Linked DNA regions of Homo sapiens: regions 1, 2 and 4 are each reported to be linked to region 3. Evidence: microRNA targets listed by miRTarBase, many of them from high-throughput screens and not tested one by one. Region 3 holds a microRNA gene; each other region holds the end of a gene's coding sequence.

Region 1 (3,173 bases), not on the chromosome of region 3:
AATCAGAAAATAAAGCAGGGGATACTTTGTGTAGTTTCAACGTTAGGGAAAGTTCAGAATACTGTCTGTCTAAACTATCTCTCTAGAAGGCCTGATGGGCCACAACCTGGGCCAGAAGCATTCAGTTCAGATATGAGAATGGTGGGTGTAGGGGCAATGGCCAATGGGCCATGGCCGGAAGGAAATTGTTACAGAGTAGTGGGAAGCCTGCAAAGACTGGCTTCTGTCCGTTTTGCCTTGGTTTGCCCATGTGGATATTCTTTGCCAATATTTTCTGCCCAAGAGCTGTGCTTGCTAGAGTTGGAAACTGGATGAAAAGGTGAAGACTTTTTTTCTTCTCAACAGCTCACAAAGAAAGTGAACAACATAGAGACGGGCTGGGCCTTGGGGGCCACCTTTCACCTGTTGCAGTCTCTGGGCATCTCCCATTGAGGCCACGTACTTCCTTGGAGACCTGCATTTGCCAACACCTTTTTAAGGGGAGGAGAGAGCACTTAGTTTCTGAACTAGTCTGGGGACATCCTGGACTTGAGCCTAGAGATTTAGGTTTAATTAATTTTACACATCTAATGTGAACTGCTGCCTAACCACTCAAGAGTACACAGCTGGCACCAGAGCATCACAGAGAGCCCTGTGAGCCAAAAAGTATAGTTTTGGAACTTAACCTTGGAGTGAGAGCCCAGGGACAGGTCCCTGGAAACCAAAGAAAAATCGCATTTCAACCCTTTGAGTGCCTCATTCCACTGAATATTTAAATTTTCCTCTTAAATGGTAAACTGACTTATTGCAATCCCAAGACCCATCAATATCAGTATTTTTTTCCTCCCTATACAGTGCCCTGCCCACCCTTATCTGCACCCACCTCCCCTGAAAAAGAGAGAAAAAAAAAAACCTGGTTTTGCTTTCCATGTATAATTCAACAACGCAAAATGGGACCATGTCAGAATCTGTATGATCCTATTCTGTGTTAGCTCCAATCAGCCAGCTGAGAGCCATCCTAAATATTAATAGGATGAGAGAGTAACTCCTAACTGTGCATAAATTACAGCCTTAAGAAAGAAGGCCACCCGGTCTCTGGGGACATGTTTTGGGAGGGTGTGGCTGCCTCATATAGCCTACCTTTGCTTTAATCAGCATTTTATCAGTCAACTCTGGGATTAATGAACATATCCGACTTTATGGGTATGTGTATATTCAGTGCCAGTACCACCTCCCAGGCTAATGTGTTAACAGTGTTTTCTATGATTCTAAACTTGTTTTCTTTGTATTTCTAAGAAATACAACTAGGCCCTAACTTTTGGTCTGTGGTCAGAGGTCAGTGTCTGTGCTATTCCAGGATCTATTATTTCAGTTTGCCCTTTTATTCTCTCCGTTTGTAACAGTACCTTCCTGTCCTGGTCCCTGATCACTTTAGCTAATATCCTTTGAATTATTTATCTAGTTCAGAGTTTCCAATACCGTTCCTGACAAAACCCCACTTGGATTTGGTTGGCTCTCTCAGCCCACATCAGTACAGTGGACCAACATTTCCAGGGAGAACCATATTTAATGTCCCTCATGCTCTCTTTTTGAATCCAAGTGCTCAGAGCTCTTGACTGTGAATTATTTACCCCAAATTCATTATCTTGCACTTTTTTTTGAGATGGAGTCTTGCTCTGTTGCTCAGGCTAGAGTGGAGTGGCGCAATCTCAGCTCACTGCAACCTCCGCCCCCAGGTTCAAGCGATTCTTGTTCTCAGCCTCCTGAAGAGCTGGGATTACAGGTGCCCACCACCATTCCTGGCTAATTTTTGTATTTGTAGTAGAGATGGGGTTTCACCATGTTGGCCAGGCTGGTTTCCAACTCCTGATCTCAATTGATCCACCCGCTTCCCAAAGTGCTGGGATTACAGGCATGAGACACCGCGCCTGGCCTTATCTTGCACTTTCAACATAATCATCCCTGCTTCTCATCTGCCCTGCAGTGCTCTTGGACCTGGAAGATCTCCCTGTGGTCTGGCCCCTTTGCCTTGGTTGTTAACCTCCAGCTTCTTTGCAGGAGTGTATTTCCCCAAAACTTGTGGCTTTCACAGTAGACTCCGTTTCCATCCTCTCTCTCACAAAGGATGTTAAGTATGCCTGGCCCTCACACAGTCCATGGGAAACCTTATTTTTAACATTACTCCATTGAGTCAATAAATATTTACCATCTGCTGTGTGCAAGTTACTAGGCAAATTTCTGTATCCTTGTCCCTAAAATTCTTGTCTTTAAATTCATTGTGGAATTTCTTTAGACTTCACACTGACTTTTATTACTAAGGTCACCTTTATACCAACTGCCTTCCTCAAAATGCTTATAATGAAATAACAGAATCTTGAGTTGGAAACAGCCCAAAGAAATAATCCAATGTTGTACTCAGTGCAGAATTCCCTAGAATTTCTAACAGGTTGTCATTCAGCTTCTGCTAAGCCATGTTCAAACAGCTTATTCCATTTGGAACTGCACTGATATTAAAAAAAATTCCTTATATTGAGCTGAAATCTACCTATCTTCTAAGTGGTCTTAGTTCTGCTCTAATCTCTCCTTCCAAAATCTTTGGATCTTTTGAAAAAAGTTCCTCCCAAGTTCTTTTATAAGTGACATGACTTTTAGACCCCTTCCCATCTTTGTCAACAAAAGTAGGGTGCCAGACCAGTCACAGAACACTAAATGTCATCCATGTTTCCTTCAGTAGAAACCAGCAGTTTTAAAAGAGGTAAGCTGTGTTCACTAAAGACTGTTCCAGCTTGACAAATGCAGAGATATAAGTCTCTGGTCTTTAATCACTGTGGGGGCCATTTTGTAAAACACACATACTGTCCAGCAGACTCCTTTGGTCATCCCAAATACCTCTGAACTCCAGGGAAGATGCATTCTAACTCCACGAACTTACCTATTTTGTTAACCTTGATTAGACCTTCTGGAGAAGTAACCAATTTGTCCATCTTAGGAGCAATTTGGAATGAGAGTTTTTATTTTTTTCTGTAACGCCCATCCTGCCTGCAGTAGACCCTTTGGGCTTAAGAGGTCCTACAGATTCTAATAGTTTCCTCTTTGTAGATGTGTTAACATATTTAAAATACTTAGGACATGGCCTGGTACGTGACAGATGGTGTTTAACATCATTGTCATATGAAGAACACTCTCTGTGGGCC
Region 2 (3,173 bases), not on the chromosome of region 3:
CAGGTAACATCTATAATTCAGTAGGTGGCACTCTTCCCCCTTATACTTTTGAACTAACTGTGGTCAGATTTAGAAAGGGCTGTGCCGAGAGAGAGACAGAGAGAGCGCTTTGGTATCACAGGTGTCTTGAGTTTTTCTAATCCTATCAGCAGCTTTAATTATTCAGCACCACAATTTTACATCCATTTCCACAGTCAGGGTTACATTTCACTCTCCGAAGTCTCCTGCTCTTTGCAGTCAAAACAGAAACATGAGTATTCATCCTCATGAAAACATGAACATCCAAGCTCTGTCTTAGCATCGGTTTCTGTTTCATTTTAGGACAAGAGATGGCCACGTCCAGTTCTGGACAGCTCCTAGGGTCCTGTCCTCACTGAAGCACTTATGCCGGAAAGCCCTTCGAAGTTTCCTAACAACTTACCAAGTCCTAGCACTGCCAATCCCCAAGAAAATGAAAGAGTTCCTCACATACAGGACTTTTTAAGCAACACCACATCTTGTGCTTCTTTGTAGCAGGGTAAATCGTCCTGTCAAAGGGAGTTGCTGGAATAATGGGCCAAACATCTGGTCTTGCATTGAAATAGCATTTCTTTGGGATTGTGAATAGAATGTAGCAAAACCAGATTCCAGTGTACTAGTCATGGATCTTTCTCTCCCTGGCATGTGAAAGTCAGTCTTAGAGGAAGAGATTCCACTTGCACGGCAACAGAGCCTTACGTTAAATTTTCAGTCCAGTTATGAACAGCAAGTGTTGAACTCTTTCTGCTTGTTTTGATTCAAAGTGCAGTTACTGATGTTGTTTTGATTATGCAACTAAGTAGGCCTCCAGAGCCTCTCTAGTGGCAGAGCAGCTCACACTCCCTCCGCTGGGAACGATGGCTTCTGCCTAGTACCTATCCTTGTGTTTCTGATGCAGTGGTAGCATTGGTTCAAGTTCTCTCCTGCTGTGGTCAGAGTTGCTTCGATGTTGGCCAAGTGCTTTTCTTCTTGGGCTCCCTTCTGACCTGCAGGACAGTTTTCCTGGAGCCATTTGGTATGAGGTATTAATTTAGCTTAACTAAATTACAGGGGACTCAGAGGCCGTGCTCCTGACCGATCCAGACACTATTACTGGCTTTTTTTTTTTTTTTTTAACAATGGTGTGCATGTGCAGGAAATGACAAATTTGTATGTCAGATTATACAAGGATGTATTCTTAAACCGCATGACTATTCAGATGGCTACTGAGTTATCAGTGGCCATTTATTAGCATCATATTTATTTGTATTTTCTCAACAGATGTTAAGGTACAACTGTGTTTTTCTCGATTATCTAAAAACCATAGTACTTAAATTGAACAGTTGCAAAGATGTCTTAATTGTGTAAAGAATTGGTGTAGTCATGACTTTAGCTGATACTCTTATGTACGAGATCTGTCTCTGCTGTTTAACTTCATTGGATTAATCAGCTGGTTTCAACTCTACTGCGAAACAAAAATAGCTCCTTAAAAGTACTGTTCTCCTTCAGTGGCATGTAGTTATCTAATCAAGACACCTCATTCAAACAAAACCTGCCTTAGGAAAATTTAATATATTTTAAATTATTTTAAAAGAAATACAACATCTTATTCTTTAGCTTTCTTAATCGGTGCTTTATGGAGGCCAGTGTAACGTTACATGACTCGTTGAGAAAGTTGAGGAATTTCCTCTACCACCTTTGTTGCTTGAAGAAAAACATGTCTTTTCAAAATGAGAGGCTTTCATTGAAGAAAAGAAAAAAACAACAGTTAAAAGCTTTTGGCTCTCTGTTTCATTTTTTTCCATTAAGAAAAAAAAAAGTCCCCTTTTAAAACAAGCAGGGCTGGGTGTGACGGCACATGCCTGTAATCCCAGCACTTTGGGAGGCTGAGGTGGGAGGACTGCTTGAGCCCAGGAGTTCAAGATCAGCCTGGGCAACAGAGTGAGATAAGACCCAATCTTTATTTAAAAAATAAATAAATAAATAGCCAAAAAAACTTAGTGTGGTGCTGGTGTGCATGGTAGCCCCAGCTACTCAGGGGGCTGAGGATGTGGTGGCATTTACCTGTGGTTCTGTGGTTCCGGCTACTCAGGAGGCTGAGGTGGGAGAACTGCTCGAGCCTGGGACATGGAGGCTGTAGCGAGCCACGATCGTGTCACGGTATTCCAGCCTGGGTGACTGACAGAGCATGATCTTGCCTCAAAAAATAAACACATAAAACAAGTAGTACAGCAGAAGAGCTGGGAATGGATTGGCCAACGTTTACATTTCATGGTTATCTTGAAGTTCCAGGTACAGCAGATGCTGAGCCTCTGGGTGGTTTGAGGCCTGGTTGGCCATCAGATATTTAGCTTCATACTTTGCCGCTGTCCTTAAGGGGGTGAGTCCTCCATGAACAAAGGGAATAGTGACTTTTTCCATTTGACAGTTTAAGAATTTGACATTTTATAAAGAACAGCATCTAAAGAAAGTTTATTCTGTGATATTAGAGACAGAAGGTTTTCATATAAATGCAAGTTTGACAAAGTCAGCATCTTTCTAGCTGTCTAAGGAAGAGTCACTTGTAACACAGCCAGCCAGGAGGCTGCTTTGTTTTTTATTATAAAGAACACTAACACAAATGCAGCATGATTGCTGTAAAATAAATGTGAAATTTGTACAAAAGTCCCAGTCCTTCCGCAGTTCTAGGTTTACAGTCAGGCTCAACCTTACTTGCCCCGCTCCTGCATGAAAACAAGTGCGTTTTATACAGCCTCTGCCACCCAGTGGCATAGTTTAAGGCTCTATATTATATTTAAAATTAAGGTTTTTTTCCTATCATACACATCAATTTGGAACCTGCTGGTGACTCTTCTACCACAGAGGGTAAATAAAAAGACCAGTTTTTAAAGTAAGAGGATTCAGCTCATCTTATAAAAGTATAATAGTTTCGGCCAGACGTCCATTAACATCTGTTTAAATTAGATACAGACACAATGCCAAATATTAGAATCATAAATGTAATTTTGGAGATAATGTTTACCTTGAGTAGGAAGACACTTGGACCATATTAAATTTGAAAGTCTTCTGTTCCAGACCAAAATGGGGTAGGCTAATTCCCTGTCATCCAAGCAACTAAAAGGTAAAAACCTTATAACTTTAAAATAAAAAAGGTTATTTTTTTCCCCTATAAAAGA
Region 3 (3,173 bases):
ACTTTTGGGTTCACACATCCATGAGAAATGCAAACATATGTCCATACAAAACTTGTACATGGGTATTCATTCATAGAAGCATCAAATAGGCAAAAGGTAGCAACAACCCAAATGCCCATCAGCTGATGAATGGATAAATGAAATGTGGTAGATCCTAACGATGGAATATTATTCATCCATAGGAAGGATGTACTGATACGCATTAAAACATGGATATATCCTGAAAGCTAAGTGAAAGAAGCCAGTCACAAAAGGCCGCTGATTATATGATTTCATTTATATAAGATGTCCAGCATATATATAGACAGAACGTAGATCAGTGATTCCCCAGGGGTGAGGGAGGGGAATGGAGATTGACTGTTAATGGTTATGGGATCTATTTTGGGGATGATGAAAATGTTCTGGAATTGATTATGATGGTTGTACAACTCTGCAAAATACTAAAAACCAATGCATTTTTTACTTTAAATAGGTAAATTTTCTGGTGTGTGAGCTATATAGCTATAGCTCAATAAGGCTATTATATACTTATTTTATTTTATTATTATTTTTTAGAGACAGAGTCTCGCTTTGTCACCCAGCCTGGAGTGCAGTTGTGCAATCTTAGCTCACTGCAACCTCTGCCTCCTGGGTTCAAGTGATTCTTCTGCCTCAGCCTCCCAAGTAGCTGGGACTACAGGTGTGCGCCACCATGCCTGGCGAATTTTTGTATTTTTGTTAGAGACGGGGTTTCACCATGTTAGCCAAGTGAAACTTGAACTCCTGACCTCAGGTGATCTGCCTGCCTCAGCCTCCCAAAGTTCCGAGATTACAGGTGTGAGTCACCACATCTCGCCTATATACATATTTAAAAAACACTAGCATGGTCTCTATGCTTATGGAAAACAGTCTTGTTGGAGAGATAATTTTAATCAAATAATTATACAAAATTATCTAACAATTACAAATTACGGTGAAGGAAAGAATCCCATATTATGAAAGAGACTAGCTGGAGGCTGATGGTGAGGGAGTGGTAGGTAAACATTCAAGTGCTCTTACAGAGATCCCCAAGTAACAGTGGCTTAAATAAGGTAAATGTTCCATTCTTGCTGATCTATCAGTGCAGGTGTAAGCAGTCTAGGGTGTATAAGGAAGCCTCACACTTTTGGGGCTCTTCTGGCATGCTGCTCTGCTGTTCCCTGGGGGGCTGCACTCATTTGCATGGTCCACAGTGGCTCTCTACCATGTCTACAGTCCAAGCCTGAGAAGAGGGAGGGAAACAGTAAAAAACTCTCCACTCCTGCTCATATCCAGCACTTTGTCACACCAGGTGAGGAAACAAAGTCAGATGTCCATGTGTTCAGATACCACTTAAGGGTTCTATTAGTATAGAAGGAGGAGAGAATATATATTGGGCAAACAATCAGCAATCTCTGCCATAGATGGCCTCTCTGAGGAAGTGACATTGAAAGCAAGAACATCAGGATAAGTTGATGTTAAAGAGAGGAACGAGTTTTCCAGGCCAGAGGGATGGCATATGGAAGGGTCATGAGGCAGGAAAGGCCAGCTACCATGTTTAATGATGCTTAATGATGTGTGTGTCTACCATACACATCCCCTACAGATTAGTTTTTGTTTTGACAGGGTCTCTCTCTGTGGCCCAGACTGGAGTGCAGTGGTGCAATCATAGCTCACTGCAACCTCCAATTCCCAGGCTCAAGCGATCCTCCCACCACAGGCCATCATGCATGGCTCATTTTTTATTTTTAGTAGAGACAAATTCTCCATGTTGCCCAGGCTAGTCCTGAACTCCTGGGCTCAAGAGATCCACCCACATCAGCCTTCCAGACTGCTGGCCTGGTCTCCTCCAGATGTTTATAACTCATGAGTGCCAGGACTAGACCTGGTACTAGGAAGCAGCTGCATTGGATTTACCAGGCTTTTCACTCTTGTATTTTACAGGGCTGGGACAGGCCTGGACTGCAAGGAGGGGTCTTTGCACCATCTCTGAAAAGCCGATGTGTATCCTCAGCTTTGAGAACTGAATTCCATGGGTTGTGTCAGTGTCAGACCTCTGAAATTCAGTTCTTCAGCTGGGATATCTCTGTCATCGTGGGCTTGAGGACCTGGAGAGAGTAGATCCTGAAGAACTTTTTCAGTCTGCTGAAGAGCTTGGAAGACTGGAGACAGAAGGCAGAGTCTCAGGCTCTGAAGGTATAAGGAGTGTGAGTTCCTGTGAGAAACACTCATTTGATTGTGAAAAGACTTGAATTCTATGCTAAGCAGGGTTCCAAGTAGCTAAATGAATGATCTCAGCAAGTCTCTCTTGCTGCTGCTGCTACTCGTTTACATTTATTGATTACTTACGATGATTCAGGTACTGTTGTAAGTGCTTTACATGCTGTTATACGAGACTCTTGGGAGAAATCACTTTAATGAAGCTTGAGACACATGGCATTGCCATGCAATGATTTTTCCCCCCTCTTCACGGGATCAGAGGGAACTAATAGAATGTGACAATGATTCTTTAGCAGGGACTGCTGAGGCTTCTGGTTCCTTTTTAAGATCTGCAGTGAAAGAAGATGAGAAACATGGATATGCCCTTCTTTTGGTCCCCCTCTTCCTTTATTTGATCTCTACTTCCTTCTATAAATATATTAGGGCTACATTGTCCCTTTGTATTTCAAACAAGGCAAAAAGAGGTTGTAATTACACTTTACTGCAATCCTCAGTTTCTCCAGGGAACAGGAATGCAAAGGCTTTGAAGGCCTCTCTATTTGCTGACATGGTCAGCTGGGTGCCATGGGCCAAGTCCTTCTGTTGCCCTCCTCTGTCACCAAGTAAGCTAGGTCCTTTCTGAGGCTCAGGTTTGCTGTGATGATGATCACTTTTAGGCAGAAGGTTAGAGGCCTCATGAGTGCTATATGGACTTTATTAGGCTTTAGATTTGATGGGGAATAAGGGATGTGATTTGTCTTTTGGGAACTCATCTTTGATTCATCATTGTCTCTTGGTATCTTGGAATTTCCATGTCATTACAGTCTACAGAATGAAAGAGTAACCTGTCCCAGAGGAGAGGCAGGTGAAAGACTCCACAGCATGCTCATTCTCATTCTGTCTTCTCAGTGACACCGAGGTTTACTGAGTGCCCACTATGTGCCAAGCACTGTGCTCAGGGCTTTCTTTGTATGCAT
Region 4 (3,000 bases), not on the chromosome of region 3:
TACACCCAGGAACTTCTGAGAAATGCTGCTGTTCACTAATACAATTCCACCCTCATCTCCCAGGCTGTCCCTGGAGAGGAGCTCTCCACTTGAGAAGGACCTCAGAGCCCTGGCTCTTGTCATCCAAATTCACCTTTCCTCTGGGGCTCTTATAGGAAAGGTGAGAGTTGACACTGCTCACCTGTGATCCTCTGGCATAACCACCTTGCAAAGATAACCCAAGAGAAATGGAAGCCTCAGGGATATACCACCAGATGAACTGACGGCAAGGTGGAGGTTTTCGCATTCCCATGGCAGGTTTCCTTATCAGCCCCCATCTCCCACCACATCAGAAAAGGAGTAAATAGATCTTTCCTGATTTCAGGCCCAGAACTAGGCTCAAGAAGAAAGAAGTGTACTCTCACGACTGGCTAAGACTTGCTGGACTGACACCTATGGCTGGAAGATGACTTGTTTTGCTCCATGTCTCCTCATTCCTACACCTATTTTCTGCTGCAGGATGAGGCTAGGGTTAGCATTCTAGACACCCAGTTGAGCTCAGGCGTAGAGAAGAGGAGGATGGGATAAGAACTGGGGCCATCCCCATGTCATGGTGGGTGAGAGCTGGGGCCATCCCCGTGGTCATGGAGGGTGAGAGCTGGGGGTTATCCCCATGGTCATGGAGGGTGAGGGCTGGTCGGGGGAGGCATCCCCAAGTCATGGTGGGTGAGAGCTCGGAGCATCCCCATGTCATGGTGGGTGAGATCTGGGGGTATCCCTGTGTCATGGTGGGTGAGGGCGGGTGGTCATCCACATGGTCATAGTGGGTGAGAGCTGGGGGTATCCCTACATCATGGTGGGTGAGAGCTGGGAGCATCCCCATGTCATGGTGGGCGAGATCTGGGGGGTATCCCCACGTCATGGTGGATGAGAGCTGGGGGAATCACCATGTCATGGTGGGTGAGATCTTGGGGGATCACCTGTCATGGTGGGTGAGAGCTGGGGGGATCACCTGTCATGGTGGGTGAGAGTTGGGATTCATCCCCATGTCATGGTGGGCTGAGCCCACATGGAAGCCTGTGCTTGGACAGCGTATGCCCTTTTCTCTGTTTTTCCACAATGAACAATTAAACTGTAAATGTTAAAAATATCAGTAATTTGTGAAATAAATTTTATTCTCATTTGAGCAACATAAATCACAATTTTGTTTGTTTACCATGCCTGTCAAAATCACAAACATTTTCTTATCAGTTTAAATAATGAAAACTGATTTCTGCTAAAATCATCTGACAATTAGCTTGTCAACATTCAAATATTTTTCACCTTAAATCCACTACCTTCGTGGTGTGGTCCACTGAAAAGTTGGGCAAAACCCAACCTGTGATTGAGGCTATAGAGAAACATGAGGGTCATGCACAATAGCTTTTTTTCCCCACACTTAGTAGATGGACTGTTTCTCAGTCTGACAGCCACCAAAGCTTTATGTCCTGATGAATATTTTCGTCCTCTCATCCTCTCTGATGGCCTCATTTCTCCAAATTTCTTCTTCTCCTCCTTTTTTTTTTTTTTTTTTTTTTTTTTTGAGACAGAGTTTCGCTTTTGTCACCGAGGCTGGGATTACAAGCATGAGCCACCGAGCCCGGTCAAGGCTTTCATATTTTTAAAACTTTGAAGTACAGTGAGAAACATAATTTAGTAAGCAACTCAGTATGCACACACGGAATGGAAAAAGCTCTGTTCTATGTTATTTGTTCTATTTTGTTCAAGTCTAGCTCAATTTTTCAAAATGCTGGTCACAGCTCGCCAACTTGTTTTAATAACCAACTTATGCCTTTCCACTGCAATCTGGAGAGCTCAGCCTCTCAGGCTGCTGGTCCCCCTGTCAATCACGATACTTTGGCTACTTTGCTTTCTTCAATCAACAAGGCTTTATCAAGAACTTATGGCTCTTTTAATTATCTGACTTCCTGGTCAATCAGCTTTGTTTGTGGTTTTAAATGACCACAGGATAGTAGAAGTGAACATAATTTCCTGCCTGTGTAAAAGGATGACATCAAGAGGAAAAGAAAGCAGCTCACTGGGTGAAGGACCTTGAGAAAGAGATGAACATTTCCTCTCTTGAGACACAGGACAAACAAGGTCACGCCTGAGCTCGGCAAACAAGGACTTCGGTGCCTGCCTACGGCGCCATTGCGCCCTCTAGTGGCTGCTGAGGAACCGCTGTCCAGCCCGAAGCTCACAGAGCCCCGTTCAGGCTGCCGCAACCTACCTAGGCGGCCAGAATGGAGACTTACAGGTGGGCGGGCATCCCGGGGTGCACACATTACCTTCTCGGGGCTCTCCAACTTAAGGCCAAGGATATCTTTCTTCTTTTTCGGCTGCTGAGAAGGTGGAGATAGTGCCATTTTCGAATGTGTTCCTAACTCTTGGGCTTCTGAGACTGTCGCAGTCTGTCCAAGGGTGGTGAGTGGGGATCAGCAGGCCCTGTTTACTATGTGCTCGCAAGAGGGGACTGCGGTCATAGGGATTTCAGAGAGGTGGCCCTGGCGTCGGGCCCCTGGACTCCAGTCACAACTCAACCACTTGCTGAGGGAGTATGCTAGCTAAATCCCTCTTGCAAGTCAAAAACCCTGTGCCCCAGTTTCTTCCTCTGTAAAAAAGGGATAATACAATGTTGGTATCCTTATTGCCCACTACAAAAAGGGCCAGAGAATATGAACAGGACATTTACAAAGTAAGGATTAATTCGTACAAAAGCCCGGTGAACGGAAAATGTGTGTAACATCACAAATGATCTGATGCCGCCAGGTAGGGGGGCATTTACCATGTGCCAGACAGACCCTAAGCTAAGCTCTTTAAGTACATTATCTCATTAACAGTCAATTATCCTATATCCTCTCCATTTTAAAATGAAGAAAGTAAGTGTGTAAGAGATTAGATAACCCACCCAGGGGTAACACAGTTGTTAGACATGGCCCCAGGGAAGTGTATCACCGGCTGGGTATTTCACGATGTTACAGC

Evidence for each region. The annotated mature microRNA hsa-miR-146a-5p reads UGAGAACUGAAUUCCAUGGGUU and lies in region 3 at 2,015-2,036, shown strand. An mRNA with a match to its seed (bases 2 to 7 or 8) in the 3' UTR can be bound and repressed. Matches are read on the target gene's strand: a 7mer-m8 pairs with bases 2 to 8, a 7mer-A1 pairs with bases 2 to 7 and ends in A, and an 8mer does both.
Region 1: the mRNA of ENTPD5 is a reported target of hsa-miR-146a-5p. Seed matches in the 3' UTR shown: 7mer-A1 at 1,731-1,737.
Region 2: the mRNA of WSB2 is a reported target of hsa-miR-146a-5p. Seed matches in the 3' UTR shown: 7mer-m8 at 933-939.
Region 4: miRTarBase lists IL1RL2 as a target of hsa-miR-146a-5p. The part of its 3' UTR that is shown has no 7-base or 8-base seed match.

Annotation. Positions count from the first base shown.
Region 1 is chr14:73,964,187-73,967,359 of GRCh38, reverse strand. It overlaps ENTPD5 (ectonucleoside triphosphate diphosphohydrolase 5 (inactive)), which reads left to right. Exons shown (of 16, transcript NM_001249.5): 16 at 346-3,173. The coding sequence ends at 432. Among named protein-coding and RNA genes, the nearest start is that of COQ6, 15 kb to the right of the region's middle.
Region 2 is chr12:118,031,507-118,034,679 of GRCh38, reverse strand. WSB2 (WD repeat and SOCS box containing 2) reads left to right here. Exons shown (of 9, transcript NM_018639.5): 9 at 322-1,993. The coding sequence ends at 484. It overlaps RFC5 (replication factor C subunit 5), which reads right to left. Exons shown (of 11, transcript NM_007370.7): 11 at 2,446-3,173. Among named protein-coding and RNA genes, the nearest start is that of RFC5, 16 kb to the right of the region's middle.
Region 3 is chr5:160,483,358-160,486,530 of GRCh38, forward strand. MIR146A (microRNA 146a) reads left to right here and starts at 1,995; the gene lies at 1,995-2,093. MIR3142HG (MIR3142 host gene) reads left to right here. Exons shown (of 2, transcript NR_132748.1): 2 at 1,942-3,173.
Region 4 is chr2:102,238,828-102,241,827 of GRCh38, forward strand. IL1RL2 (interleukin 1 receptor like 2) reads left to right here. Exons shown (of 12, transcript NM_003854.4): 12 at 365-1,175. The coding sequence ends at 414. Among named protein-coding and RNA genes, the nearest start is that of IL1RL2, 53 kb to the left of the region's middle. RefSeq lists enhancers at 1-87, 1,942-2,236 and a silencer at 2,176-2,235.